Homo sapiens: one gene and its partners. The protein of the gene in region 3 interacts with the protein of the main gene of each other region in a pairwise test. Each region holds a gene or a part of one and is shown on either strand. Other genes may lie near its edges.

The links.
Region 1: the proteins of PDE6D (region 3) and ARL15 interact in binary tests that used the Homo sapiens proteins (3 or more experiments, as listed by UniProt).
Region 2: the proteins of PDE6D (region 3) and ARL16 interact in binary tests that used the Homo sapiens proteins (3 or more experiments, as listed by UniProt).
Region 4: the proteins of PDE6D (region 3) and OTP interact in binary tests that used the Homo sapiens proteins (3 or more experiments, as listed by UniProt).

Annotation. Positions count from the first base shown.
Region 1 is NC_000005.10:54,300,106-54,308,201, forward strand, and holds part of ARL15 (ADP-ribosylation factor-like protein 15), read right to left. Parts: intron 7,842-8,096; coding exon of another isoform or gene 7,783-7,841; intron 1-7,782.
Region 2 is NC_000017.11:81,679,702-81,688,758, reverse strand, and holds ARL16 (ADP-ribosylation factor-like protein 16), read left to right. Parts: upstream 1-4,961; 5' UTR 4,962-5,005; coding exon 5,006-5,066; exon of another isoform or gene 5,067-5,164; coding exon 5,165-5,223; intron 5,224-5,632; coding exon 5,633-5,746; intron 5,747-6,083; exon of another isoform or gene 6,084-6,516; coding exon of another isoform or gene 6,517-6,609; coding exon 6,610-6,725; intron 6,726-6,879; coding exon 6,880-7,051; 3' UTR 7,052-7,572; downstream 7,573-9,057. Other genes in the region: HGS (hepatocyte growth factor-regulated tyrosine kinase substrate), read right to left, coding at 1-55, 1,664-1,756, 2,372-2,447, 3,070-3,154, 4,656-4,692. UniProt on the Homo sapiens protein: May suppress the RNA sensing activity of RIGI in a GTP-dependent.
Region 3 is NC_000002.12:231,731,145-231,736,590, forward strand, and holds the end of PDE6D (retinal rod rhodopsin-sensitive cGMP 3',5'-cyclic phosphodiesterase subunit delta), read right to left. Parts: intron 1,890-5,446; coding exon 1,808-1,889; 3' UTR 1,289-1,807; downstream 1-1,288. UniProt on the Homo sapiens protein: Promotes the release of prenylated target proteins from cellular membranes. Modulates the activity of prenylated or palmitoylated Ras family members by regulating their subcellular location.
Region 4 is NC_000005.10:77,627,850-77,635,945, forward strand, and holds the end of OTP (homeobox protein orthopedia), read right to left. Parts: intron 6,612-8,096; exon of another isoform or gene 4,874-6,611; intron 2,946-4,873; coding exon 2,415-2,945; 3' UTR 863-2,414; downstream 1-862. UniProt on the Homo sapiens protein: Probably involved in the differentiation of hypothalamic neuroendocrine cells.

The DNA of each region.
Region 1 (8,096 bases), on a different chromosome or scaffold from region 3:
CCAAAAATTCTTCAACCTTCCTCCCACCAAGAGATATCTCCCTTCTGCCCTTGAACCTAGCAATGCCTTTTTTACTGCCTTGATGAAAAGAACACAGTAAAAGTGACACTGAATCACTGTTGAGGATTGGGTAGAAAAGACCAGGCAGTTTCTGCCAGTTTCTCTTGGTACGTTTGCTCTGTAAGCCTTCGGCCTCAATATGAGAAGTCCAGCTATCTTGAGGCCATCACATAGAAAGACCACATGAAGAGAGATGCCCCAGGGGGCCACCCTTGTCCAGCACCCAGCTGTTGCAATGTACCCAGCTCAGATGCCAGGCATGTGTATGAAGCCTTGAGGTGACCCCACCCTCCATCTGATTACAACTTCATGAGGGATCCTGAACAATAACTGCCTAGTTGAACCCAGTCAAACCCCGATTCACGAGTAAAATACATTGTTATTGTGTTAAACTATTGTTTTAAGGTGGTTCATTACTCAGATAACCAAAACAATGCTCAAACCAAAAACCTAAGAATTATCCCTGAGATCTATTCTGTTGTCATCTTCCACATCCAATTACAAAATTCTGGCAATTCTTAAATGTTGTTAAATCCATCTACATTTATGCATCCCTCCTGCCCCTTCCTGGTTGTGAACACCATCATCTCATTTCTGGATCAGGACATCTTCCTAACTAGTCTTGCTCCAGTCTTCCCTCCCTTTCCAATCCTTCTCTGCACTGCAGACAGATCTGACCATGTCATTGCAGGCAAACTTTCAGAGTTTCCATGACCCTAGCTGGGCTCTGCAGCTTCATTTCTAGCACTGCTCCAAACCCTGCTCCAAAAACACAGAACCCCTGAAGTCCCTTGAAGTCATGGGGTTACTCACCCCCAAATTTCCGCACAGCTATTCCTTTTGCCTGGCCCTGGCCCTGCCTGTCACTGGGCCAACTTTACTCAGCTTTAATGTTGCAGATGTTAAAAGACTCCTCTGGGAAGTTCTCTTTGGCCCTGAAATCTAGGTTAGGTTGCCTTTCATGTGCTACTCTAGCCGTCTTTATTTCCCTCCAGATAGACTATGCTACTCCAAAATGTAATTGTTTATTTTTCATCGTACAGGAGCATAAGTACCTTGAGGGCAGACTAATGTCTTATTCACTCAACATTTTTTTTTAGGGAAAAAAGCAAATTTAGAAAGATAGAGCATTATGTTACAATTTTGGTAAAATTCTTAAAGCACACACAATGATACTATATATGGTTTACACCCACATGCATATATGATAAAAAGCCAAAAACATGCATGAGACTGTTACTCACTAACCTCGGGATAGTGGTCACCACTGAGAAGGGTGGAGGAGGAAGCGTGCAGGGAACAGGAGTCTTTAGTTTCATTTAAAGATCACCAGAATTTTGAAGTCAAAATGGCAAAATGTTCAATCAGGAAGGCAGGTACACAGAAGTCTGTTATATTATTTTCTGTACTTTTCTGAATGCTTAAAATAATTCATAATTAGAAATAAAACTCTGAAAGAATTATATTTCTGTTTAGCTCCTGACTCCATGTCTATACTGATTAGGAACGGGTATAGACCTCCAATGCCTCAATCAGTGGTCCTGGAGTGCCTCCAGATTGTCATTCCCTTCCCCAAGAGAAAGAGAGAGAGAGGCCAGAGCAGCAGCTCTCCTGTTGAAAAAAGAACCCAAGGGAATCCCTCTTGGAGAGACATGGACATAATTAGTGGGATAAGTCCTCAACTCTGAAAGCAGCAGTCCAGAGGTTAAAACAGTTCCCAGCAAATCTAGGTACAGAGGAACTTGATAAATGAGATTGGCTTGCAAATGCAACTTTTCAGATGGTGAGCTACTATCAAAATCATGTAGGAGTGCTTGGCTCTATGAGCCAAAGGGCAGAACACCTACCTTTATGCACACTGAAGGAGAGAGTGGGTAATCAATGAAAGCAAAATCAGTGAGCAGACTCCCGCCTCAAACACAAACCCACACAACTTTCCCAGTGGGAGCTGCACTGTCACTGAGTTCCCAGAGGGCCTCTCACAGGCAACCAGGTGACAGAAACAATCAAGTGACCCCTCAATTTCCAGAATTGTTATCTATGGTTCACACAGTCTCTCTCACTCATCCTCTCAACAATTATTAATTATAATAGTTAAGCAGCACCGAAGAATGCTCATGGCCATGGGCTTAGAATCAGACAAGCTCATACACTGATCCTGACCCTGACCCTCCACTGGTTATGCAATTCTGGGCAACACTCAACCTTTCAGAGTCTCAAGTTTCCTCTTTTCTAAGTTGCTATGTCTTTGTGGTTAACAGCACTGTTGGGAGGATTAAATTAGGTGATCCAAGGAAAACACTCAGCACTGTAAATGGTACACAGTCCTGTATTTACCAGACACTAGACTAGATTCCAGTGATAAAATGGTGATTAAGACGGTCAGGGAACCAGCAATGATGCAGGTTACAGACTCAGATGCCAGCCATGTATTTAGCGCTAGAAATCTGAACTGGCCTTATAAATTGTGCGGCCCAGTGCAAAATGAAAACGCAAAGCACCTGTTCTAAAATTAAGATTTTTTTTTTTTTTTTTTTTTTTTTTTTTCCAGGATGGGGACCAAAGAGCAGTAAACCAGGCATGGGGCTCTTCTGAACCCAGCGGTTGCATGGCTGGGAAGCCAGCCCTGCTAAAAGTAGATGTGACTTGGTACTTTACAGACACTCGGAAAATGAGGGTCAACCAGAACTGGGCTTCTTAGACTCATCCAAACACCTGGGACATTGGGACATTTGGGGAGATGACAGGGGAGAGCCACAACATAACACAGGGGGCTGCAGGATCCAAAACAAAAGCCCCTCAATAATTTAATTTGTGGGAAGTATCAGAGGAAATTCCCACTTCTTGTCACCTACAATAGTTATGAGACCTTCCCTAACAAGCTTTCCTTCTCTTTAGTCTACCTTAGAAATAAATCCTTTTATAAAGTTAATACCATCAGGAGATTTTGCCCAGCTGAAGTCCATAAGCAACAGGCTGCTTATGGCCTAGTATCTATTGGGAACAGCTGACTTCCCAGGCAGTGCGTGGCAAAAGAACATAGCACAGTCTCAGTACCTCTTCAAAAGAAATGGGGCTGGGCACAGTGGCTCACGCCTGTGATCCTAGCACTTTGGGAAGCTGAGGTAGGTGGATCATTTGAGGTCAGGAGATTGAGACCAGCCTGGGCAACATGGTGAAACCCCGTCTCTACCAAAAAATACAAAAACTAACCATACGCCTGTAGTCCCAGCTACTCAGGAGGCTTAGGTGGGATAATTGCTTGAACCCGGGAGGCAGAGGTTGCAGTGAGCTGAGATCAAGCCACTGCACTCCAGCTTGGATGACAGAGTGAGACCCTGTCAAGCAAGCAACCAAGAAAAGCAAGAAACAAACAAACAAACTGGGACTTGGGGCAGGTAGGAATGTGCCCCTGAAAGTGACACTAGGGGACTGAGTAAGGAGATCGCACCACTGCACTCCAGCCTGGATGACAGAGTGAGACCCTGTCAAAAAAAAAAAAAAAAGAAGAAGAAGAGGAGAGGAAAAAAAGAAGAAAGAGGAGGAGAGGAAAAAAAGAAGAAAAAGGAGAGGGGAGGGGAGGGGAAAGGAGGGGAAGGGAGGGAAGAAAAACGAAACAAAACAAAACTGGGGCTTGGGGCAGGTAGGAATGTGCCCCCAAAAGTGACACTAGGGGGCTGAGTAAGGAGGTTGCCTGAAAATCTATATGTGGTCACCTGGTGGAACACTAGATGCTGAAGATCACCTCAGTGGCTATGACCAGGGTATGGAGACTGTAAGGCAGGAGTTCCCAGCACACAACATAGTTCTCTTCCTAGCCAGCCTTCTCTGTAACAATCACCTGCCAGAGTCCTTGGGGACAAGGGCGCATCAGCCTGCCTGCTCATGGCCACTGCTTTCTTTAACATAGTAGTGGTCAAGGACCACTTTTCTGTACCTGTTTACTTAAGAAGCAATATACTAAAAATTTTGAGTGCATCCCAACTGCCTTAACACCAAGCTGCCTGAGCCTCTGCCTAGCACAAGGGAACTACTTGTAGGTGGAAGGCAATGAAGAGGGAGGGCCCTGGGGCCACAAGCGCAGTTCAACTACTTGCTAGCTGTGTGAACTTGAGGAAATTACACAACCTCCCTGAGCCTCAGTTTAATGCTATTACACATGCAAAGCACTTAGAACACTGGCACAGAGTAAGTGTTCAATAAATGTTAACTGATTTTGCCCTCCTGATTATAACTCATATACTTATCTCCTCTCACCCCCGACCTGAGCACTGCCCACATGCCAACAAGCATGTGGCTTTGGCATCTTTCAGAATGCAAGCCCCTGGAGGGCATGAATCAAGGTCCCTATGTGTCCTCTCCTAGGGCTCATACTGTTAGACTGGAGCCACAGAAGTTTGGGAACCAGACTTAACACCTTTGTAGAAAAGTTCCTACCTAATGGTACGGATTTGCTCAAAACATTTTTGCTATATGAACTCCATATATGGTAGATCTGTTTATTGTGCTCAGATAATTTTTATCTTATAAATTATTAAGAAAGGAATATTTAATATGACTGCCTAATCCACTCGACATTTAGACTAAAAAGTGACCTACATTATCACTTTAAAGTTAGTCACAATAAATACAACTTACAATGTTCATAGATATTCAGGGTTAAAAACAACGAAACAATGTACTTTTTTTTTTATCAATAAAGAAGTTCAGTTCACAGATAACTGAACATAATATGAAATCACAAATGTACCTTCACTCCTCTTTTCAAGTAGGATCCTTTACAATTTCATAGTGCCTGTGGGCTCTACCCTTTGTAGCACATCATGGGTTTCTATTGTTGGTTAGTTAGCTGGTTTTTATCCTGCAAATGGTGACAGATTTGTGATGATCAACCCAATTCTCTCACCACATCTTCCCCACTGAGACATACATTTTTATGATGGCAGATACAGCCTATAACCAAGAAACTAAATAGGTCAAGTCCACCAGTCTATACAAAGAAATCTTATTAAACTAACCTATCAAATCTAATCTTATTAAATCCCAAACACTGGCAGGGCACGGTGGCTCACTCCTGTAATCCCAGCACTTTGGGAGGTCGAGGCAGGTGGATCACCTGAGGTCAGGAGTTTGAGACCAGCCTGGCCAACATGGTGAAACCCCGTCTCTACTAAACATACAAAAATTAGCTGGGCATGGTGGTGGGCACCTGTAATCCCAGCTACTTAGGAGGCTGAGACAGGAGAATCACCCCATTGCACTCCAGCCTGCATGACAAGAGCAAAACTCTGTCACAAAAAAAAAATAAATAAATAAAAAATCCCCAACACGGTACAGTAGTTTCCCCTCATCCATGGGGGATATATTCCAAGTCCCAGTGGATACCTAAAACCACAGATAGTACTGAGCTATCATAGAACTAACTAACATAGCACAGAGCACACTATATTTTTTCCTATACACACACACCTATGATAAAGTTTAATGTGTAAATTAGGCATAGTAAGTGATTAATAATAACTAATAATAAAAGTGAACAATGATAACAATATACAGTAATAAAAGTTATATGAATGTGGTCTCTCTCTCTCTTAAAATATCTTATTGTACTTTACTCACTTATTTTGAGACCTCGGTGGACCATGGTTAACTGAAACCTTGAAAAGTAAAACCGTGGATGGGAGGGTGGAGGCTACTATAAACAAATGCAATGAATATTAATTGACAATTAGCATCCAAGACTAATCAACCATTTTTACTTGTCACATTTTCAAGTCTAAGTTTATATTTTAGTTCACAATAAAACACACAAAATGAGAGAAATGTACTAGAAAGCAAAGAAGCACATCAGAAGCTACCCCCTCCCCTATGTGCCTTACTTAACCTGTCCTGCCACAGGTTCCTCTAGAGCCACACGACTGCCAGTCCTGCAGTCAAGGAGGATATTACAGCTGAGGGTTCATCCCGCATGACTTTCAGGGCCATGCAGAAAGTAAGGGCTCCATAAATATTTGTTGAATAGATAAATTATTCAAATGGGTTTTATTTTCGTAGCTTTTAAAAGATTCTTAAAAGAGTCTTGTGACTTCCTGCTTGTTGATTACAACTCCCAGTATTTCCATAAATTGAGACTAGTTTAAAAGGTATTTCAATACCACTAAGCAGTAACAGTCATTCTACAGGAGGTATAAAAGTAACATCAGCAACATAATCACAATACGTTAACTTTTTTTTTTTTTTTTTGTCTTGAGACGGAGTCTCACTCTGTCGCCCAGGCTGGAGTGCAGTTGTGCGATCTCACTGCAACCTCTGCCTCCTGGGTTCAAGCGATTCTCCTGCCTCAGCCTCCCAAGTAGCTGAGATTACAGGCATGCGCCACGACACCCAGCTAATTTTTCTATTTTAAGTGGAGATGGGGTTTCTCCATGTCAGCCAGGCTGGTCTCAAACTCCTGACCTCAAGTGATCCGCCTGTCTTGCCCTCCCAAAGTCCTGGGATTACGGGCGTGAGCCACCTCGCCCAGCCACACAATACGTTAACATTTTATATTTGAAAAGCAACGTACTGTTTACAAATGGCTTTCCCTCCACTATCTCATTTAATCATCATAGGTATTACACAGAGTACAACCAATTCTACCACTGTTGTTTTGATGGCGCAGAGGGAAAAAAGGTTAATTCCAGATCAATCATCACATGAGTCAAGACAGAAAATTTTGAACTGAAAGGAATCTAGAAGTTGATCTTGTCCAACCTCCCAGGAAAACTCGAGAAATGTGTTTTTCTCTTTCATTTTAACCTGACTATTTTCTCCTACCTTATCCAAAAAGCTCTGCACATTGTGTTACTAGTTCTACCTATGAGAAGAAAGAGTAAGATGCTGGTACTGCCTGTTGGGACAGCAGCTAAATGTTTACCCAGAGACTTGGCAGATGTAAACATGGCCTTTAAACCCCATCATGGAAAGGGGAAAAGTTGTGTGCCCTTCTAGGAAGATTCACTCATCAACTGGAAAACAGAGATTTTTATGTTTAAATTGCCACCCTGGCTAAAAGGATTATATCTTGATCATCTTCAAGTTAAGAGTAAAGGATACATTCTGCATTCCCCTGAACAAAACACCTAATCCAAACAGATTTTATCTTGTCTCAGTTTAAAAACTGGTGAAAAAAAGCAGAATTTTCCTTTCCATTTCATATTCATCTGATTCAACAAATAAAATATCGGGCCCTAACTATTAATACATGCCAGAAACCAAGTCAGGCACCGCACCAGGTGATACATCTAATTGATTAGGATTAGCAAATTTCTATTCTTTCTCTCGACTGAAATCAATAAAACCCTGTCTTAAATATTAAAGTACTATCCCTGTCCCTCACCTTGACTGTCACTTCTGAGAACATTTGTTTTAAGAAATCAACAGCGACCCGAAGATCAGTAGAGCTTCTTCATCTGTTTTAATATCTCAATCTTATTAAAAGGATTAATCCTGTTAAGACAAAATAGCACCTCCACCTTTCTCTCCCTTCTTCCTTTCCACTCTCCTCCAAATAAAAAGGTTAAGTGACGACATCCAGCCCAAAGAACAATGAACAATAGATACATACACACACACAGCTCTCTCTTCCAGTTTCCAACAGGAACAACACAAGAAAGTCAAATACTGATTAAAAAGAAATGACACACACCATCATTCTTGTCAGTGCATGGAAAGGGAACTTACTCTAATCCATTCAGCAAAATCTGGAGTCAAACTTGGAATGAAAGGAGCATTTTTTTTCCCTGCAAGGTAAGTAAAAGAACTCAGGAATTTTTTAAAAATAAAATAAGATACCAGATGCAAATAAATTGATTTCTATTCCTCAGAAATAGGGCTTTTAATAAACGCCACACAGAGTATGCATAAGCAAGCAAGTCAATCCGAAAGACAGGAAGAGAAAAATAATGTGTGGCACATCATTTTCTCTGAAAGTCGACAAGCAAAAGGTGAACACAAAAAGGCTACCTCGGGAGGGCTAGTTTTTTGTTTTGAGATGG
Region 2 (9,057 bases), on a different chromosome or scaffold from region 3:
CCCAGGCCTGGATCAGGTACAGGATCTTGTTACGGACGTTTACCTCCACTTGTCTCTGCAGGCAGGGAGAAGGGGGTGAGGGTCGCAGGACACTCCAGGCGCCAGAGGCCTCGGTGTGAGGAAGCAGCTGGCAGACCTCAGCCTCTGAGCAGATGGGGCTGACACAGAGGCCAGGGAGGGCCCCCCGAGTGGGGCGTGGGGGCCATGCACCAACCTGTTCCCAGACCCTGAGTTCAAACCTCACGCCTGCCTCTACTTGCTGGAGCCAAACAACGCCGCGTCTCTGTGCCCCTGACCATCTGTCTCTCCCTTTCCCCACGGGACCTGCCCACCCCAGGATCCCCGGTTCCCGTCAGCCTCCAACAGGCAGGACCCGGCAGGCCTGACGGTGGCAGCGTGGTGTTGGGGCTGAGAACACAGGGGTACTGCGGGGCTCTGGCCACGCCCCTCCTTCCAGTCACAGCCGGGGAGACGCGGGGGGCAGCCGCTCCAGAAATGCCTCCAAATTCAGAGCGGGCTCCAGACCCCCTGCAGCCATCCTCTCCCCCGGTTAGAGCGCAGCCTGGCCTCGCGTCTACGGCCCTCTCGGGGACGCCGTCCCGGTGTGACGTGCAGGACGGCGTGCGATCAGAGGCTGCTGCAAGCAGGCTCCGGGGCACTTGCACCTCAGCCTAAGCTCCTTTCCAGAACCCCTCTGCATCCTCAGCGGCGCCTTCCCTTCACAGCCCTGCCTCACCCCAGAGGAGCGAACCGGCTCAGGATCTGCAGCCTGACTGAAGGAGCTCAGGAGCACCAGGGTCGGGCAGGGCCAGACTCCGGCACCTTCCGCCTCTCAGCCAGGACAGGACGGGACAGGAAGCCAGCCAAAGTGGCCAGTGAGGGCCTTTGAGAGGCCTGGCTGTCCACCGGGATCCCCGGGCAGGTTCTCAGCTGTGTGAGTCCAGGGAGTCTCCTATGAGACCCAGGTCTGGCCCACAGGTTGGGACAGAAGGGGAGCAGCCTGACTACATGGGACACTCTTTCTCCTTGACACCTGCAACAGCATCCCCACTGCATCACAGTCCACATCACAGTCCCTGCAGGTGTCCCCAGCACAATCCCTGCAGATGTCCCCGGCACAATCTCCTGGGGATCTGGAGGGCTTTTCCTCCTCTGCCCAGGAAAGCATGAAGCCCTCGCTCTCCAAAACAGCTCTTATCCCCGCCAGACACATCCGATCTTACAAGCCCCCGCTCAGAGCCCTCCCAGGCCCCTGCCTGTGGGATGTGGCCAGCCTGCCCTCCGGACCACAGCCACTCTCACACACGATAGCCACCACCTGCCCTGCCCACCCAGTGGCATCTACTCACCTTCCCTAAGACAGCAGGTGCCCAAGCCCTGCCTCCCGGAAGCTTCCCCCAGGCCCCAGGGTCGCTGTCACCTTGGTCCTCCAGACACAGCACCCCAGGCCGGCTCCTGCTAAACCCTGACCTCCCTGGATTGGGGCTCACGGCCCTGTCTCTCCGACTCATGAGTGCGAGCTTGCGCAGTGCAGGGACCACCGATCTGCACCTGCACATTTTCCGCCACACCTGGTGCTGTTCTGTCATCAGTGCCCAGTAAACACCCGGAGAAGCAAAGGTGCCAGCCTGGGTGGCCACCCGCATGCCCCCGTCTCACCCACCTTCAGCAGGTCCTTCAGCTCCTCCATGGTCTGCTTGTTGGCCACCTCATCATGAACTGTCTGGCCACAGTTCTTTACCACAGATTCCATGACCTGCAGATGCCCAGGAAGGGAAGGGTTGGGCCAGTGGTCAGGGCAGGGCCCCTCCTCCTCCCGGACAGACCCACCTCCCTGTGGGACAGCAGAGCCCTTCGACAGGCCCGTCAGTGGCCGGTGGGGAACCCGGTGGGACAGCAGAGCCCTTCGACAGGCCCGTCAGTGGCCGGAGGGGAACCCGGTGGGACAGCAGAGCCCTTCGACAGGCCCGTCAGTGGCCGGTGGGGAACCCGGTGGGACAGCAGCCCTTCAACAGGCCCGTCAGGCCAGTGGGGAACCCACATCTGAGACTCAGCAGCCTGCACAGCACCGCTCCGTGACGCCAAGTCTCACTGCCAAGCACAGCAATGACATCCGCCTTCTGGTGTTTACTCACGCAGGACCGGCTGAAGAAGTGGTGCCCACTCCCTCCCCTATCTCCTGTCTCTCCCTCAGCGTGACCCTCTCCTAGGTGGCACTGTTCACACAGGCACTCAAGGCTGAGTGGAAACTCTCCTGCTTGATGTATGCCCAGGGAGGTGGGCAAGGCCACAGGACAAACTCTTCTCATGCTGTCGTGACTAGTAGGGGGTAGGGACCCTGGGGGCCACTGAGGCACGGGGGTCTGCTTACCTCCAGGGCATACAAGGCGACGTGTGGGTTCTTGTCGTTGACTTTCTTCTTGATGGAATTCACAGCATATTTTGCTCTGAAAAGGAAACATTGATAAAAGCAGAGAAAAACGGGAAAAAAATAGTCTCAGCAACTAAGATGAGAAAAGCTCATCTGCTGCCAGGTGCAGTGGCTCACGCCTGTAATCCCAGTGCTTTGGGAGGCCAAGGCAGGAGGATTGCTTGAGCCCAGGAGTCTGAGACCAGCCTGTGCATTACGGCAAAAACCCATCTCTACCAAAATACAAAAAATCAGCCGGGCGTGATGGTGAATGCCTGTAGTCCCAGCTACTCAGGAGGTTGAGGTGGGACGATCGTTTGAGCTTGGGAGGCAGGGGCTGCAGTGAGCTGAGATCACGCCACTGCACTTCAGCCTGGGTGACAAAGCAAGGCCCCGTCTTAAAAAAAAAAGTCTGTCTGCCATCTTAGTCTTTGAGAACCCCGAAGCAAATACAAACATAACCAGGTATCTGCAAGCTGTACAGAGAAAACCCCTTAATCCTCCAAGATGTCAAAAAATCCTAGCATGTAGCCCATGCAGTTCTCCACATAAGAGCCTAACACGGTCAGCTACGTCGTGGAGACCCAACGGGCACCAAGCGAGCCCAGCTTAGTGCACGGCTGCTCCTCCGCATCAGGGCACAGGCCCCGCTAACTCACTGTGTGTCCCCTTGGCGGATCAGGTCGCAGATCTGCAAAATGGACTCCCAATCTGTCTCCAACAGGAGCTGGCTGGTCGCCTTGTCTGAGAGAGAAAATGCCATGAAAGGGAGGGGTTATCCTGCTGGACGCCCCGTGCAGCACCCCAGCTTGGCAGCAGCTGGGGGGGACTCTCTCCTTCCCCTTTAGACATTTGGACCAAATGAAAAAGCATGACAGAATCCTCCTGAGCGTGCTGATGGGCAGGGAAGTGCCATCCTCCCCAGGGAAGCAGCAAACAGCGTAAGAGCACACCAGGTGCTGGTCCAAGCCCTCCCACAACCCGCGAGCGAGGTAAAGACACTCAGCAGAGAGGCGAGGGCACTGCCGTGAGTCACACAGCTCACCAGAGACAGAGGCTGATTCACTCTTAAACATCAGGCTCGGCTGCTTCTCAACAAAGAACCCTATCACCCGTCCCTTGGAGTCCCCGTTCGCCCAGATGCTCCCGGTTTCAATGGGACCTTAGCTTGGGCAAGGGCTAGAGAGGCCTGCAGTGTAGACTCCAGGCCCCTTGCTCCAAGCCAAGTGCTTTGGAAATAAGGGCAGAACGGGGCTCCAAGGAGGACTCGCCAGCATACCTGTCATCATACCACATCACTGCTGTCTCCAACAACTGGCCCCTCTGGGGGGGCAGCTCCAGCTCTGCCCACATCGCCTTTCCCGGATACAGAAACGATCTAACAAGCCAAGCCACGTCCACTTTCTATACTGATTCAGTAGTTAACCTCTGGATTCATCCCTGAAGCACTGAACTACCTGTGTGGCTGAGATACTCAGTCTGCTTGCTGGTTCCCTTGGCAAGGAAGGTGTCTCACTTGAAGTCTCCTTGAAAACCCTACTTGACAAAAAGGCAAGCTTGGGCAGCCCATTCGACCACCCAAGCTCCTACCCCCAAACATTAGACGCATTTTCCACGTGCTGCTGGGCACGTGCACATCAACATTCGTTTCCCTCCCAAAACGCGTCAATTCCAGGAGGCTCAGATAGGATCAGCTTTCACCTCCAAAAACGTGAGAAAACGCCTTCCTAAACCATTAGGCACTTCCCGAAGCCAGTGTGGGAACAAAAGGTGGGTCTGGGACCCGCAGCCCCCAAGAGAGCTCGAAGGTCCCAGAGAGAACACTGCCGGCTCCACCCTTCGAGGCCCAGTGTTTTGGGTCAGAAGCCCAAGTGCGAGCCTAACATCCGACTGAGTCACCCACTTTCATGACTCAGGCCTTGTGGCCCACTCGGCCGGGTGCTCGTCGGTCAAGAGGAAATCGGCCGAATGCCCGGGCCCGCGGAGGAGCGAGGTCGCCGAGCGCCCCTGGCGCCCTGCGCGGACCCTCGCAGAGCCCCATTTGCCAACGCCCGACGGACGCCGACCCCACGGCCGCGCCGAGGGTCCAGGATCGGCGGCTCCGAACCCGGGAGGACAGCGGGCCGGGGAGAGGCGGGCAGGGCGGCCGGTCCGCGCCCCTCGGGCCCTCGGGGCCGCGCTGACTCAGCGCCGGGCGGAGGCTGCGGGCTGACCAAGGCCGAGCCGTCGGGTGGGGACGCGTTACCTAGGAGACGCTCGAAGGTGCCGCTGCCTCGCCCCATGGCGACCTCCAGCCCAAACCCGACGCCGCGGGCGCTCCCCTGCTACGAGCTGGCGCGCCCCCCGACTTCCGCTTCCGCCTTTTCCCTCCAGTGCGCGCACGCGCACGTCACCGCGCCGGCCCTAGAGCCGCGAGGAGGCGGGGTCTTCCGCTCTCCCGCTAACGCTGCGCGCTAATTGGACGCGCCCTTGGAACAATGAGCCCTAAGAACCAATGAGAAGTCCGAAGGTGAGAACTATCCAATGAGAGTGGCCGGTGGGCGGGCCTTGAGCCGCGGCGCCGAGCTACGGGTGCCGGGTGGAGCGAAGCACGGAATGTGTCTCCTGCTGGGGGCCACGGGCGTCGGGAAGACGCTGCTGGTGAAACGGCTGCAGGATATCCTTCCGCGCGGGGACGGGACCGGGGCGCGGGGGGCACCCGGAGTGGGGCGGGGACTCACCCTTTAGCTGCTCGGGTCCTTGACCGCTTCGCACAGGTGAGCTCCCGGGATGGGAAAGGCGACCTGGGGGAGCCGCCCCCGACACGGCCCACGGTAGGTGTCCGCCCCCGCGGGTGGAGTTGCGGGGGGTCAGTTCTGCGCTTGGCGAAGAGCTCCGGGCTCCTCTAAGTGCACGCCGAGGCGCAGCGGGTCAGGTCGTGACTTAAGGCCAGCCTTCGGGAGCGGGGGACGGCCCGAGCTGAGGATAATTGGCGCGGGATGAGGGGGCCTGCCGCCCTCCACGGGCACTTCCTCTCCCCTCGCAACGGCTTCCTGTGGCTGGTCGCCCCCACAGCGAGTCCAGCTACTGATGGGCGTCGGTCCCTGCTCGCCGTTCCTGCGTTAGGGAGAATGGGTCTGCGGGGTTCAGGCCACCGTGTAAGGTGTGGGCACGGTGCTCTTCAGGAGTTCACAACGGGACAGCGGTTGTATTGTTCTTTTTGCATCGTGGTTTTTCCTATAGGTGGGCACCAATCTTACTGACATCGTGGCACAGAGAAAGATCACCATCCGGGAGCTTGGGGGGTGCATGGGCCCCATCTGGTCCAGTTACTATGGAAACTGCCGTTCTCTCCTGGTGGGTTGTAATCCTATATGGGCTTCCTTTAGGGAAGTGTGTCTACATTTCTGTGACGTCCAGTCCCCAACCTTGCTGTGTGTAGAAAGGGGTTTGGGTTATTTAGTGACTATACTACTCATGGAAATAGGTCTTAGCTAGTGTTGCTTCCTGCTGGGCACCCTGTCTGGTTTCTGGTGCTTGCGCTCCCAGGCCCCCGGTAGGAGCTCACAGAGGGCTTGCTGAGGGCAGGGCTGCTGCTCCGCAGAGAACAGACTTGGCCCTCTGTGTCACTCCCCGGTACGTCTGTGTTTATGTTGGACTTATACGTACCTCTGGTTGGTCTCATCTTGATAAGGCCTGTGCCGCGGATACCAGTATGGAGAACTGATGGCCACATGAGGACAGAGACGAGTGACACCAGGTCGTCTTCATAAAACTCGATTCCCTCTGCTTCTGCTTGTTCCCAAAGCTTTGTTTAAAGCTACTTTGGGCCGGGCGCGGTGGCTTACTCCTGTAATCCCAGCACTTTGGGAAGCTGAGGTGGGCGAATCACGAGGTCAGGAGATGGAGACCATCCTGACTAACATGGTGAAACCCCGTCTCTACTAAAAGTACAAAAAATTAGCCAGGCGTGGTGGCGGGTGTCTGTAGTCCCAGTTACTTGGGAGGCTGAGGCAGGAGAATCACTTGAACCCTGAACCCTGGAGGCGGAGTTTCAGTGAGCCGAGATCGTGCCACTGCACTCGGAGCGAGACTTCGTCTCAAAAAATAAATTAATTAATTAAAAAATGCAGTTTTGCTCTCCCAGTGCCAGGTCTGTGAGGCCCAGGGGAGGAAGTTTGGCAGCGGGGCATTGCTGCTGTCTTTTTCTTTTTCCCCAGTTTGTGATGGACGCCTCTGACCCCACCCAGCTCTCTGCATCCTGTGTGCAGCTCTTAGGTCTCCTTTCTGCAGAACAACTTGCAGAAGCATCGGTGCTGATACTCTTCAATAAAATGTACGCGTCCCTGAGCTGAGAGGGAGCACAGCGGGGGCGGGGGCTCCCTCGGGTTACAGCCGGAAGCATGGCTCGGTAGGGAGGTGGTGCAGCTGGGGGTCCGGGGCAGGTGTGTGGCTGCCACTGCTCTGATGGGGCACCTCTTTCTCTCCAGCGACCTACCCTGTTACATGTCCACGGAGGAGATGAAGTCATTAATCAGGCTTCCAGACATCATTGCTTGTGCCAAGCAGAACATCACCACGGCAGAAATCAGCGCCCGTGAAGGCACTGGCTTAGCAGGGGTGCTGGCCTGGCTCCAGGCCACCCACAGAGCCAACGATTGACTGCACGGCAGAGGCGCAGCTGGCCTGAGCTGGGGAGAGGTGGCAGAGGGCAGTATGGCTTTGCTGCCAATAGTTTCTTCTCACAGGGGCAGAATAACCCAAAGTAACCCTACATGATGGGGCTCTGTGCTGAGATGCAATGATGTGTAAACTGAGGCATGTGGAGATGGAAGTTGACATCTGGCCTCTGAAAAAAGTGTCCCCAGGGGCTAGGCATGGTGGCTCACACCTGTAATCCCAGCACTTTGAGAGGCCGAGGCGGGTGTATCACCTGAGGTCGGGAGTTCGAGACTAGCCTGACCAACATGGAGAAACCCTGTCTCTACTAAAAATACAAAATTAGCTGGGTGTGCTGGTGCATGCCTGTAATCTCAGCTACTTGGGAGGCTGAGACAGGAGAATCCCTTGAACCTGGGAGGTGGAGGTTGCAGTGAGTCGAGATCATGCCATTGCACTGCACCTGGGCAACAAGAGTGAAACTCCGTCTTAAAAAATATAAGAAATAAAAAAATAAAAACCTGTCCCCAGACTGGATGAGCAGGGCCTGCAGATGGCCGAGTGTTCTGTATCTTAGAGTGGTGCTATTGGGGTTGGCTCACCTCCTTCCTGGAGACCTGCTGGACTGCCCCCAAGGCGTATGGACTGCACAGTGCCACTGAAACCTGGCCTCTTGCTGTAGCACAACCTCCAACCTGCTGAGCCGCTGGTACCCTGACCCTGCATCTGCCACAGACGGCATGAGGCAGGTGAAGTGAGTGTGGTAGTAAGAGCCAGGCCTCGAGTTAGAAACAAGCTGGTGGCCGGACGCAGTGGCTCACGCCTGTAATCCCAGCACTTTGGGAGGCTGAGGCAGGCAGATCACCAGATCAGGAGTTCGAGACCAGACTGGCCAACATGGTGAAACCCTGTCACTACTAAAAATACAAAAAATTAGCTGGGCGTGGTGGCTTATGCCTGTAATCCCAGCTACTCGGGAGGCTGAGGCAGGAGAATCGCTTGAACCTAGAAGGCAGAGGTTGCAGTGAGCTGAGATCGCGCCATTGCACTCCAGCGTGGGTGACGAGCAAAACTCGGTCTCAAAAAAAAAAAAAAAAACAAGAGCCAGCATTCTCACTGGTTCACTTGTTCAGTGAACAGGTATTGCCGTGAAACGCCCCACAGGTGTGCCAGGTGGGGCTCAGATGAAGCACAGGAAATGGTGGCCGTGCCTCCCATGGTTCCCCAGTGCCCTTCCTTGACTTTGGTTCTCAGCCATGGCCACTTGTGGGAGTGTTGATTGACGGGTCAGTGTCCTGCAGCTGCCAAAACAACACAAATTTGCTCTCTTAGTTCCGGAGGCCAGAGTCCAAAGCTGGGCTTTCACCAGGGTAGTTTCCTTCTGGAGGCTCCGAAGGAGCATCCGTGCCTTGCCTGCGTAGTGGCTGCGGTGCTCCTCGGCGCCCCTGGGCTGTGGCCTGCAAAGCCTGTTTCCACCTCCACCTTCACGCAGCTTCTCTCCTGTGCCTCTGTGTTCTCTTACAAGGACATCTGTCGTTGAAAATCCAGGATGATTCCTCATTACATCTGCAAATGCCCTATTTTCCAAACAAGGTCACTCTTGCTTGTTCCAGGGGTTATAATTTGGACACACCTTTTAGGGGCCGTCATTTGACTACAACAATTGAATAAGAAACCCTATAGTCCTGAGAATAGATGTGAATTTTCTACAGATGTTTTCCCAGCTGGCAGCCTAGGCTCCTTCGGTCATGGAAGGAGCCTCGCACCCACCACCCTCCTCCGTGGCACAAACCTGCTGCACTTTGCTTGTGGGGAAATGGGTCTTTATTCCTGTGGAGGGCTATGTGCGATGCCTGGGAAAAGCTCGCAGCACGGCGTGTGCTTCAGGGTGGCTCGGGCTCCAGTCTCTGCTTTCCAGTGTGTCATGGGCTCTCAACTGTACACAGCCTGTGCCCTGTTGGATGCCACCTTTTTTTTTTTTTTTTTTGAGACAGAGTCTCACTCTCGCC
Region 3 (5,446 bases):
GCTACTTGGGAGGCTGAGACAGGAGAATTGCTTGAACCCAGGAGGTGGAGGTTGCAGTGAGCCGAGATCATGCCACTGCACTCCAGCCTGGGTGACAGAGCAAGATTCTGTCTCTAAATAAATAAATAAATAAATAAAATTAATAAAAAACAGCTTTTGAAGACAACAGATCTAATATGAGGAATTGAATCATCATTGAAAGATGGTAGTACACTAAAAATATACGGTTTCTCCTCCCCACCCGCAGATGCAAACAGACTCAGGTAATAGAGAGAAAAGGAAAAGAGGAATCTGAGAGCAAGAGCTACACCAAAGAGAGCCATACCTTTGATGTGTTCTGTCCTCTGGCCTCAGACCTTACTGCTTTGGTAACTTGAAAACATGTAATTGTTGGTATTTTATAAAAGACAGTGAAGGCATGCTGGGAGCGGTGGCTCATGCCTGTAATCCCAGCACTTTGGGAGGCCGAGCCAGGCGGATCACCTGAGGTCAGGAGTTCGAGACCAGCCTGGCCAACATGGTGAAACTCTGTCTCTACTAAAATTACAAAAAAATTAGCCAGGTGTGGTGACGGGCTACTCGGGAGGCTGAGGCAGGATAATTGCTTGAACCCAGGAGGCAGAGGTTGCAGTGAGCTGAGATCCCGCCATTGGACTCCAACCTGGGCAACAAGAGTGAGACTCTGTCTCAAAACAAAACAACAAAAAAAGACACTGAAGGCTACTAGTAGCTCAGAGGTAAGAACACTTTTTGGTGTTCTCTCTTATGTCGGACCTGAAAGCACTGCCAGTTGTAATCCCTTCTCTCCCACGCTGGCTTCCAATGACGACAGTCTTAAAGGCCTCCCAGCCTCCTCCCAGCCCAGACGCCTTCCCATCATTCTCCAGTTAGGTTCATGCAGATCTTTTCATTTTGTAGCTTCTAGTCTCATTTAGGAATATGAGAGTCCCTACTCTACTAACTTAGAATTGCCCTTTCTTGAAACTTCTTGAACAAATGAATACTGTAAACAAATAGAAAAAATTAACAATAATAAACAAACAAAGGGTGCATGTATGTTGTGGAAAAGAACCATTAAAGATTGTGTCTAAAAGACAAATGTTAAGGTCATGGGTTTGGTTCAAGTATGTTGCACAATTTTGGAAAGCAGTAACTGTGGCACTAGGGAACAAGATCTATCAGTTCCATTCCTGGAGTGAAATACAGTTGTGATCTTATATTTGGTTTCTTTCCATTATGCAGCCAGGTTCACTTTCCAGAAAAAGGAGAGATAAAAGCAGTGCCATGCTAAAGACTGTAGGAATATTTTAATTCATATTTTTAATTACATTATGTAATAATATCACAGTCTATTTTACAAGTTAAATGTATGAGAATGTATGAAATAGAAATGGTAGGAAAAAACTAAACATGGGTCAGGAACACGGAATTTTTCCAAAACCAGGGGCCAAAGGTAGATGTGTAGCCTGTAGGGCCCAAGGAGGAGACAAGGAGGGTGACAGGTACAGTTACCGGTTTGTGGTATGTGTTTGTTCCCTGTGTGTATGCTGGGAAGGACTTGAGACCTGTCCCCTGCCCTGGTCTGGGGTTGGGAGTTTAGTCTGGTCAGCTGGAAGATGGTGGCTTGGGAAAAAGAGCCATCTGGTTACCTACACAGAGCTGGTCCCCTGGTGGCTGCAGGTAGGTTCTGCTGTTGAGGGAATTAGGGGTGTATGTGTCAAAAATCAAACGTGTGGAGGAAAAAAGTAAACAGTTTCCTCCTCCCTCCAAAAAACCCAAATTCTTGAAATGTACACACATTCTTCTTTCAAACATAGAAAAGTCTCACTCTGGATGTGCTTACAAGAAGATCGTCGTCAAAAAACTTTGTTTCTATGATAACGTTCCCACTGTAAGTAAGAAGAGAAACAGAGGGCAAAAGAGAGTGAGCATGTTAGGCACAAGATTTCATTTCCACAAAGTGGTTTCCATCTGGATTCCTGGGCCAATGGACATGCACCCACCCAGAGTCTTAGCTTGGGGACATTAAAATCCTTGTCTATATGGGGCTACAAGTCTAACATGACATTTAACTTATGTGGTTACATTCATCCCTGTCAAGCTCACAAATCAGAAGTGAGAGCATGTCTCCACTCCTTGGTACACTCTAAAGCCCTTAGTAGAGTGCTCTGCACACAGGGTGCTTATAGATCCGACTGACTTTCTGATACTGCATTCATGGACACCTCTGGCTGGCTTACATATAGAAGCCTGCAGACCTCAGGGGCAGTATCCTTCCCTACAGTACTCACAATAGTCGAAAGGTGGGCTTTGGCCTGGCCCACATCTATTTTCCTGCCTTTGGGTAACAGCACCTTGCTCTTCATTTGGGAACCACCCTTCCTCCAGTCCATGTGCCAAGTGAGTGGCCCCTCACTCACCTGGCAAAAGGGTGAACAGAGGATGTAACTTAGGCCAATCAGACTCTTTCTCTTGAGCAAGATCCTTCCTGTAGCTTCTCCTTGAGGAAGCCATCCAGGGATTCCTGCCCATCTGCATCTTCCAAGCCGCCCAGCTCTCCCCCTTAGTCTTTCAGCTCTTGTATTAGCCAGAGCCTGTTTCTATGACTTACAACTACAGAACACTAAATGATGCACCTGTATTGTGAGGTGTGAGGGAAGAATTTCATTTTTCTTGGTGGGTATCTCGGTGCTCCCATTTGTAAAATGGGAGAGACCATGGCCTTACCAAATCACACTTGAGCTGAGTTTAGGGCAACTGTTTTTGGGGGTTCTAAAAAGTTAAGTAGCCGGGCACGGTGGCTCATGCCTGTAATCCCAGCACTTTGGGAGTCCGAGGTGGGCGGATCACAAGGTCAGGAGATTGAGACCATCCTGGCTAAACAGGGTGAAACCCTGTCTCTACTAAAAATACAAAAAAATTAGCCAGGCGTGGTGGCGGGCGCCTATAGTCCCAGCTACTCGGGAGGCTGAGGCAGGAGAATGGTGGGAACCCGGGAGGCGGAGCTTGCAGTGAGCCGAGATCACGCCACTGCACTCCAGCCTCCGCGACAGAGCGAGACTCTGTCTCAAAAAAAATAAAAAAAAATAAAAAATAAAAAGTTAAGTATAGTTGGTTCCCTACTTATAATGAATCAACTTATGATCTTTCAACTTTATAGTGGATTTATGGGGATATTAAATGCATTTTTGACTTATGATATTTTCATCTTATGATAGGTTTGAGACAGAGCGAGACCGTCTCAAAAAAAAACAGCAACAAAAAATCACGCCTCGTGAAGAAGAAGTCAAATGAAGTTTAATAAAATCTAAAAAAAAAAAACCCCTGCTTTCCTAAACTACTCTGTACTTTCCCAGGGTAATTAATAACCAGCAGATACATTTCTGCTGGTAATTAATTATAAAACAGGTAAATAGGCCGGGCATGGTGGCTCATGCCTGTAATCCCAGCACTTTGGGAGGCTGAGGCGGGCAGATCATGAGGTCAGGAGATCGAGACCATCCTGGCTAACATGGTGAAACCCCGTCTGTACTAAAAATATAAAAAAAAAAAAATAGCCGGGCGTGGTGGCGGGTGCCTGTAGTCTCAGCTACTCAGGAGGCTGAGGCAGGAGAATGGCGTGAACCTGGGAGGCGGAGGTTGCAGTGAGCTGGGATCATGCTACTGCACTCCAGCCTGGGCGACAGAGCGAGACTCCGTCTCAAAAAAAAAAACAAAAAAAAAAACCCCAAAAAACAGGTAAATAAGGTACTCAGAATCTGACTGGCTGATAAGATATAAAAATAGCTACTACTGTAATTAAAAAATCTACTTTTAGGCCAGGCACGGTGGCTCACGTCTGTAATCCCAGCACTTTGGGAGGCCGAGGCGGGCGGATCACGAGGTCAGGAGATCGAGACCATCCTGGCTAACATGGTGAAACCCCGTCTCTACTAAAAATACGAAAAATTAGCTGGGCGTGGTGGCGGGTGCCTGTAGTCCCAGCTACTCGGAAGGCTGAGGCAGGAGAAAGATGGGAACCTGGGAGGTGGAGCTTGCAGTGAGCCGAGATCTTGCCACTGCACTCCAGCCTGGGCAACAGAGCGAGACTCCATATCAAAAAAAAAAAAAAAAAATCTACTTTTAAAACTATTAAAACTTTAAAAAATTCTATTACAATTTTTTTTTTTTTTTGAGGTGGAGTCTCGCCCTGTCACCCAGGGTGGAGTGCAGAGGCGTGATCTCGGCTCACTGCAACCTCCGGCACCCAGATTCAAGTGATCTCCTGCCTCAGCCTCCCGAGTAGCTGGGACTACAAGCGTGTGCCGCCATGCCCAGCTGATTTTTTGTATTTTTAGTAGAGATGGGGTTTCACTGTGTTAGCCAAGATGGTCTCGATTTCCTGACCTCGTGATCCACCCGACTTGGCTTCCCAAAGTGCTGGGATTACAGGTGTGAGCCACTGCGCCCAGCCTCTTACAAAATCTATGTTGCCCAAGCTAGTCTCAAACTCTTGGACTCAAGCAATCCTCCCGCCTCAGCTTCCCAAGTAGCTAGGATTATAGGAAAGTGTCACCACACCTGGCTGTTAAAAAAACTATTAAAAACTTTAAAAAGGGGCTGGGCACGGTGGCTCATGCCTGTAATCCCAGCACTTTGGGAGGTTGAGGCGGGTGGATCACCCGAGGTTAGGAGTTCGAGACCAGCTTGACCAATATGGTGAAACCCTGTCTCTACTAAAAATACAAAAAAAAAATTAACCGGTGTGGTGGTGTATGCCTGTAATCCCAGCTACTTGGGAGGCTGAGACAGGAGAGTTGCTTGAACCTGGGAGGCGGAGCTGGCAGTGAGCTGAGATCACGCCACTGCACTCCAGCCTGGGTGACAGGGCGAGACTCTGTCTCAAAAAAAAAAAAAAAAACTTAAAAAGTAGAGACAGGCATGGTGGCACATGCCTGTAGTCTCACCTACTTAGGAGGCTGAGCTAGGAAGATCACTTGAGCCCAGGAGTTGGAGTCCAGCCTGGGCAACATGGCAAGACCCTGTTTTTTAAAAAAATAAAATAAACAAAACCCAAAACAAAAACAAAAAACCTTAAAGTCAATAACCTCAATTTTTAACAAATTCAATATGGCTTTCATAAAGGAACTGTTGAAAGAGATGATCCAATATTACACAATTATCTGTGGGACTAACTCTTTTTTTTTTGAAATAGAGTCTTGGTCTGCTACCCAGGCTGGAATGCAGTGACATGATCTTGGCTCATTGTAACCTCCACCTCCTGGGTTCAAGCAATTCTCCTATCTCAGCTTCTTGAGTAGCTGGGATTACAGGTGTGTGCCATTACGCCCAGCTAACTCTTTAGAAGGTACTATTACTATAACATTTGAGAGACTAACATCTTTCCCACAGACAATGGGAGGTAGGAAGTTATTGACAGTGTTTTTGGAAAAAGCACAAACAAATT
Region 4 (8,096 bases), on a different chromosome or scaffold from region 3:
CCCAAGGAAGCCTGTGATATCGATTTGCCTCCAAGTTTAAAACACACCGCAAACCTTCCCCTCGGCCGACCGAAGAAACGGCATTTTTTTCCTACTCCTTTGGGGCAGTCCCCTGAGCACGTGCCTGAAGTCGAGGTTAGTACGCAGCCAGCAGGGACCCTGACAGGAAACCAGAGCAGCCCCGGGGTTGGGGGAGCCCTGGTAGGTGCTGGTCGTCCCGGACACGCCTCTTCTGGAGAAGCGCGTTTGTCCCTTACTTGGGAGGTCCCGGGTATCTGAAGCGGATCCCGGGTCTGGGGACATGAAGGGGCGCCGTGGCCTTAGGGAAGGCCCCAAAGAGGCCTAGGCCCCGGAGGAGGCAAGAGCCGCGGCCTAGCTTCCACCGCGTACCTGGGGCCAGACACGGCTGGGGCGGCGCCGGAGAGCAGAACTCCAGGCTCTGAAGGCCGAGGGTGCGAATTGTGGTCCCCTCCCACCCACGGCCTCCCCATCACGCGCACGCAGCCCGCGAGGGGCGCCCTCCGCGCCACTGCCCCAGGGACACCGTTCATCTGAGGAACTCTCGCGCCCTGCGTTTCGTGCCGACAGCGACGCTCGGAGTCCCACCTGGGAAACCTGGGTTGGCCCGGAAACCTCGGGAGGCTCAGAGCTTGCGTGAGGCGCTCGCGGCGCCCCAGCATGCCGCCCCGTCGCGGAGACCTCACCTTGCAGCCCAGAAACCGAACCCAAGCCCACTGCAGGGCGAAGGGCCCACGCGTTCCAACTGGCGCGAATATAACCATTCCCAAGACCGGCCCCTCCCCTCCCCCCACGAGACCCCTCCCGCCGTTCAAGGTCACACCAAAACCCATCATTCTCTATATCACATACTGAAAATGATTTTATTTTATCCATTTACATTTAACTTGATATAAACTTGTCCGGAAAAGTCAAATAATATGCTTTATATTAGCTCAAACATTTATTAAGAAAACCGAATTCCATAAATAAACACAGACATTAAGTTAAAACATATCACAAATTGACCAGTATGTAACAAGAATGCTTTATCTACACAAAACATCCTATTTCACATATTTGTTCATTCTTAGAAAGCGCTTCTGTTCTCTGGGTTTGGATTTGACCAGCACATGCAGAAAGAGCTGATTGTGTTTCTCTGTACAAAGTTGCAGGGTTGTAGATGTCCGAGTGCCCCCATCGGCTGCCAGCAGGTGGCCGAGGGGCACGAGGGACGACAGGACCACCACAAAACAACCAAGGGCACAGAGCAGCGAGAAGACAGAAACAGAAAAGGAAGCAAACAAACCCCAGTCCTGAAGGATCCAGAAAAGAGATGTGGCTTTTGCTTTTACAAAAGAAAATTTTGCTTACACGTTTATTTTATTCTTCCTTATAAAGACTTATCAAAATGGGTCAGATCACCTCTTCCTCGTCACATGACTGCTTTAGTCTACTCCAGCCACCCAATCCACTGTCACGTTCCTCCTGAGAAGCCTTCCCTTCTACACTCTCACACAGTTGTGCTTAAGAAAATGAAAATAAGATAAAATAAAAATAAAAGCGTTATCTTGCAAGCCAAGAGAGGGCTGCACGGATGTGACTGGGTGGACTGGGCAAGGGTAGCGTGGTGGGAGAGGAAAGAAAGACAGGAGCTTGGAGAGTACAAGGATAAATCAAATCATATCAGTTGGGCCCTCAGATGAGGCGGTTGGTAGCAATGCTTGTCCTCCTTTAAGACAAAAATCCCTAACATTGTGCTGTCCCTTGAACACGTCCGTGTGTGACCTAGGTGCACCGTGTCTGTGCGCGCGCGTGTGTAGCGTCTGAGCGTGAGCGAGAGTGCGAGTGTGTGTGTTTCTGCCCACAAACCAGTCCATTGGTGTCTGATTTCAGATCCTGAGTCGACTCCCTGGTACGTAAAATGGCGGGAAGGATACTTTTTGCCGGGCGCGGGAGGAGGGTCGCGAAGTGTGGGGAAAGAGGGGACCGGAGGGGAGGCGGCGGGCGAGGGGGGTCGTAGGCGTCGCGTCGAAGGTGTGGGTGGGAACGCCGCCCGTCAGAAGGCCAGGAGGAGGGCGCGAGCACGGCCAGCGCAAGCAGGGAGGCCAGGGTGGCGGGAAGGGTGGGCTGAGGCGCTGGAGACCGAGCCGAGGGCGCAGCTGGGTGGGAAGGGAAGAGGGGCGGCCGGGAGACGGGGGACCGCGGGCGATCGAAATCAGGCGGAGGGGAGGCCTCGCGGGCTGGGGCTTGGGGTGAGCCCGAGCGAGTGGAGGAGAGAGGCGAGGACGAAACGAGACGGGGCGAAGGCCGGGGCGGGACGGGGCAGGGCGCCGGGGTCCGGGTGCGCGCCGGAAGGGCCTCGGGGCGGCCCCCGGGGCGGTGCTGGGGGCGGAGCGGGCCGGGGCGCGGCTGCATTAAGTGAAGCTCATAGAGACTGTGTGCTCTAGCGCCTTGCGGCGGAGGGAGGCGATGCTGGTGCCCCGCCACACGTCGCTGCTGTCCGGGGAGCTGCAGAGCTGGGGCGAACCGGAGACGTTGCTGGGGCCGGGGAGGGAGGCGGGCACCATGCCGGGGAAGGCGGGCTGGTAGAGGTGCGACTGCAGCCCCGCGCCGTTGGAACCCGCCAGGCTGTTGGACAGGCCCATGGAGTTGGGCGGCGGACCGGCCGCCAGGCTGCACTGGGACAGCGACTGCGCCATGGCCTGCTGCCTGCCCAGCGCCGGCGGCAGAGGCAGCTGTGACACGCCAGGCATGGCGGCCGCCGCCCAGCGGGTGTCGTTGGCGTGGAAAGAGCACAGGCTGTCGCCCATGGCGGCGGCAGCGGCGGCGGCAGCCGACGGGAACTGAGGCAGGCCTGGCGTGGGCAGCAGTGTGCCGGGCGCACGGAACACGTTGGTCGTCTTTTTGCGCTTCTTCCACTTGGCGCGTCGGTTCTGGAACCAGACCTGGAGCGGGCGGGGCGGGAGACAGACAGGGAGCTATTAGCCGGCCCGGCGGCTGGGGAGTTGGGGCTTGAGCCCCAGAAACCCGCCTCGGATACAGCCGCTCTGCCCTGGGAGGAACAAGTGCCGTAGGCCCGACAAGCCCCCATACCCAGCCGGAGACTGTGGCTCCCCACCAACTCCTGGCAACTGGCGCCCCCTGCACCCACCAAGCGCGGAGTCCTGCGCTCCTAAGAGCTCGTGCCCCGAAGAGTTTACGCACTGTGCAAACACACCAAATGTGTGCAGTCTTCACCACGCCCCTGCACATTCTGTGCACTGCACAGATTCACAGGTCTGCAGTCAGGCATGTGTCAAAGTTCGACCCACAGGTGTACAAATGAAGATAAACGTGTACCCATGTAGCTTAATAGCATGCCTTATAACACTGATGTGCTATAGAATTTTCAGAAACGCTGGAAATTTGGAAATTGATGACAGGCTGTGGATGACATAGTTTCAAAATCGAAAGACAAAGGAAAACCCCTAACGCTACGGTTGACAGAGCGGAGAGGTTAATACAGTGATCTGCGTGGGAAAGTGAACGCCACTGAGCTACAGTGTTGTTTGGGTCACCACCATGACTTCCGATTCCTCCCATATTGCTTCGTGCTACTGCCACAACTCTCCGTGCCTCATTCCCAAACCACTCTATGGACACCTTTGTCTGGGCTGTACGAGTGGCTGGAACCTGCTGCCCCAAGAGCCTTCAACCCTATTCTTTTTTTTTTTTTTTTTTTTTTTTTGAGACGGAGTCTTGCTCTGTAGCCCAGGTTGGAGTGCAGTGGCACGATCTCGGCTCACTGCAACCTCCGCTTCCCGGGTCCCGGCTGAAGCAATTCTCCTGCCTCAGCCTCCCGAGTAGCTAGGATTACAGAAACGCGCCACCATGCCCAGATAATTTTTGTACTTTTAGTGGAGACGGGGTTTCACCATGTTGGCCAGGCTGGTCTTGAACTCCTGACCTCGTGATCCACCCGCCTCGGCCTCCCAAAGTGCTAGGATTACAGACGTGAGCCACCGCGCCAAGCCAAAGTCTATTCCTTTCAGGAACTTACCAAGGGTCCCAAGTAACAAGGCCTCCAGTTCCCTCAAGTCGCCCCCATTTCATTTATAAACTAAAAGCAAATTTTCGGACCAATATGAATTAAAGGAGGTCACATTTCACTACGAGATATATGAATCAAATTTAATTTTGCTCAGACAAACCCAAACGTCCTTTTTCAGGGAAATGAGTTTGATAAAATACACTCCAAATGAAAACAGCCTTCCTATTTTTTTTTTTTTTAACAGTGGCCCGGGAGTTACAGACCCTGTCAGGCAAATTTGCCTAGGCATGTCAAACCCTCTATCACAGAAGAAGAGTTCTGCCTGAAAGATATCACATAAGCTGCCAATCCAAGATAACTCCCATCTCCCCCTATTTGAATGTGATCTTTTTAAATGACAATAATAATAATAATAATTTGCCAGCAAGCCTGCCTGGAAGACTTGCAGTTTAAAATCTGGTCATCTGGCGTTTACTGTGCCTAAATATAAATGATGTAGGACAAGCCCAGGTACTGAGTTTCCTCTTAGAATTTGGCCAACGCAATTTGACCACGATATCCGTGGAAAAAAACGTTGTGCATCCGTTAATCTAACCTATTTAGTGTTTACTCTGCAAGCTAAAGTATCAGGGGTATGGACATACCTGCCCTCGGTCTCGGTGAGCCAGCAATGTTCAGCGGTGTGTTCATGCCCAGGCAAGCGTAGACGCACTCTACGCTTACCAGTGTGAACGGTGTTGCAGTCTAGAATACTCCCCCAGCTTGGGGCCGGCCCTCGCCTTTCTACCGTGCCTGCGCCGTCGCCTACCACTTTCTTCCTGTGGTTTCTACCCCATTTTGCAGATTGCTGCGTATCCCAGTGTCGGCGATGGATAAACAGGTCTCGTCTCTTCCCAGTTGCAGCCCGTGAGCTGGTGGCACAACGGATTAATGAGGCAACAGGGCTCTAGATGGTGAGTGGGATCAATGAGACCCAATTGAGCTGTTAGCGGTCTTAGGCGGAGAGCATCTCTCAGGAGGAAAGGAAGGCACAGCGAGAAGACCTAAGGCCGAAAGTCGCTGTGCAGCACCCACCCAAGGCTGGACTCGGGGGAGGTAGACGGGACGGTGTCTGTGACTAAACGGTTCCCACACCTTACACGCCGCACCGGGATTATGTTTTGAAAGGTGTCTTATAAAATCAAGACCGGTTCCTAACAACCTGCAAGTGCCAGTGAATCCCGAAATGTTTGTTTGAGGAGAGGGAGTGTGAGGGAAGGAGCAGAAAAAAGAAAGAGGGGGAGGATTGCCCAGTAGAATTTCAATAGAAAATGTGACTACCAGAATGGTTTCTGAATCTAGGATCTGCTCAGGCACAGGCGGAAAAGAACAGCTGTTAAAGAACTAAATATTATAGAAATAATCGGAAAATCGTGCTCAATTATGTTTGAGGGTTAGTAGTCAAATGATGGCTACAAATTTTTTTATGTTTCATGGCTTACTGGGATTGGGAAAAAAAATCTGCGTGGGGTCTGAGCACCTCCGTTCCAAGCTACGATGCATATGTTTTTTAAATGTGAATGTTTCCACTTGAAAACTAGAGCATGACGGATTAAAATGCAGGCAAAACCTAAGGGAGATTTTTAGAATGCACAGATGACAACTCCAGGAAATATATTAACCCCAGCCACGGGCCAACTTTGTACTCAGTTTGAAATGCAGCTCTTCTTGGAAAATGCTTAATACAACAGTGAGAATCTAATGGAGGTTGGAATCTAAAAATCCACTTTCATGATATCTGCTGTTACAGTAATATAGACATACTGTAAATGTATTTTAAAATATATAGCCCGTTTAATTCCCCAGCTATAAATGACTGAGAAATAGAAAAAAGAGGGAGAGAAAGAGAGAATATTACTTTTTCCCCCCTTGAAGCAAATGCTTTATGAAGATCTCATTGGAATCCAGCAAATGATTAATGTGAAGATTTTGGAGGAAATCTGGGGAGCTGTATTAAAGCCTAGATCTCAGGTTCATTTCGATCAGCCAGCCGTGAACTCTGGGCCGAATTCATTACAGTTTAATAGTGCTGGGAGAGGAAGAAAATGCAATTTCTCATTCCATTAGAAAACTAGAAAATACTCTCAGTTTGTCCCCCTATTAAGATGTGGCAGGTGACAGGGCCATTCTGGGGGACACGGTCAATGGAATTACAGCACACTATTTTTGTTCATATAAAATATTGAAAGGCAAGCCTGACTGTGCAGAAGTTATTTTACTGATTTGGTTTTTATGTAAATAAAATATTGAAAGTTAATTAATCCATGCTAGAGACTAATGATTATGCTTATTATATTGCATTTGATCACATAATTTGCATGATTCTCACATTGCTGCTTAATAAGCCATTCCAGGTTATAAATAATTCTGAAATTGGTTTCTAATAATGGCATGCTATAAAAGGAATGGTTTTATTACACTGGCCAGAAAAGAGGAGCTATATCAGACATGGAATTGGCCTCCATGTGAGTAGAGATGCTTTAATAAATACTTAAAAGTGTGATATATACCAAATAAAGATAAAAAATAAGTATATTGGATAATTTAGTCTAGAATCAAAAAGCATCTTTAAAAATATACAATTGCAATGAATTAAATGTTTAGATAATTTTTAATCAGCGCAGTGGCCCACATACTGAAAAGAATGTGTGGCAGTCTGTTAACTATAAAGAAAACTATGAAGTATTGATCATATAAGAACATAAGCCAATTACTATTTAATTTGAATTTGGTCAAGGAGCAATGGTACAGTGAATTGTGAAGTAAATACATTTTCCATAAATTATTTTTGCATTACATTACATAATGTTAATCATTTTGAAAAGTTAATTAAGAAGGTTATGTTGATCTGATTACTTTTTAAACTATGGAACATTATTTTTAAAAATATTGAAATTGCCATTCTATTAAATTGTGTCTATCAGCAGGCTCAAGCTATTATCTTTGCTTGAACATTATGCTGGAACAATTAGAGTACTTTGTCTCTTTCTTCTTGTGCATTCTTTTGTGTACTTTTTGAAAATAACTATTTCTGTTACATAGCTTATATTTTATTTCATTTACAACTTTTTCTGTTAAAAGAATAACTGTCATTAACCTTTGGAAGACCTAATAAAGTTTAATAGACCTCGTTTTCTTTTTTCATAAAATCAGTTGTTCAATTATATTTTATTTGTGATTCTAAGTTCTATTTTAATTTAAACTAATTGCCAGTATATCTAGGTTAAGACACAGCATTTTACCCTTTAAATACAGAATTAATAGATAATCTTTCTCTTAAAGGACAAAACCCCAAAATTTATGAATTTCTAACCTGCAAAATTGAACCTACAAGCAAGCACTGTCATCAGTGTTGATGGAAGTATTGAAATTGTATATTTATGTAAAGGTTTAAACTCAACTTCAGATATTTTTTAAAAGGTGAAAAATAAAAATTTTGAAGAGCATTACTAACACATGTTTACAGTTACACAATTAGTACTCTTTTGGTGTGTCGTTTTAAAAGACCATGGTCTAGGCCTTTCACTAGGAAAACCACCCAGACTTATATTGTATAAAAATGCTAATCATTATGTTAATCAACATTACTTTATTAATTTGACCATTTTAAATCCCCAATAATATTCATTTGCTATTAGAGCAGAAGCATGCGCTATCTTTTCAGTTTAGACTATCTTTAAAATGCCGAATGGAGACAGAAACATTCAACGCTGTGATTACGGACGTTCTCATTGCTTACTTCTTAGATCAAATGTAAAGTAACTAAGATCTTAAAGTTAATTTTATAAAAGTAGGTAGCACTGGTTTAACAAATTGACCAGGTTGATGACACCCAGGATATCGTACAGAAAATACCACCGTCCAAGACGGCAAAGGAAGATTTTTCAGCACCCTGGATAGCTCAAGAGTGAGTACCGGCGCTTGGAATTTCACCTCCAGGCACCTGTCCATAAAATATTTGATATGTCTTCATTCTTTCTTTTAAAAAACAAAAAAAAAAAACAAACAAAAATCTGGGATTCACTAG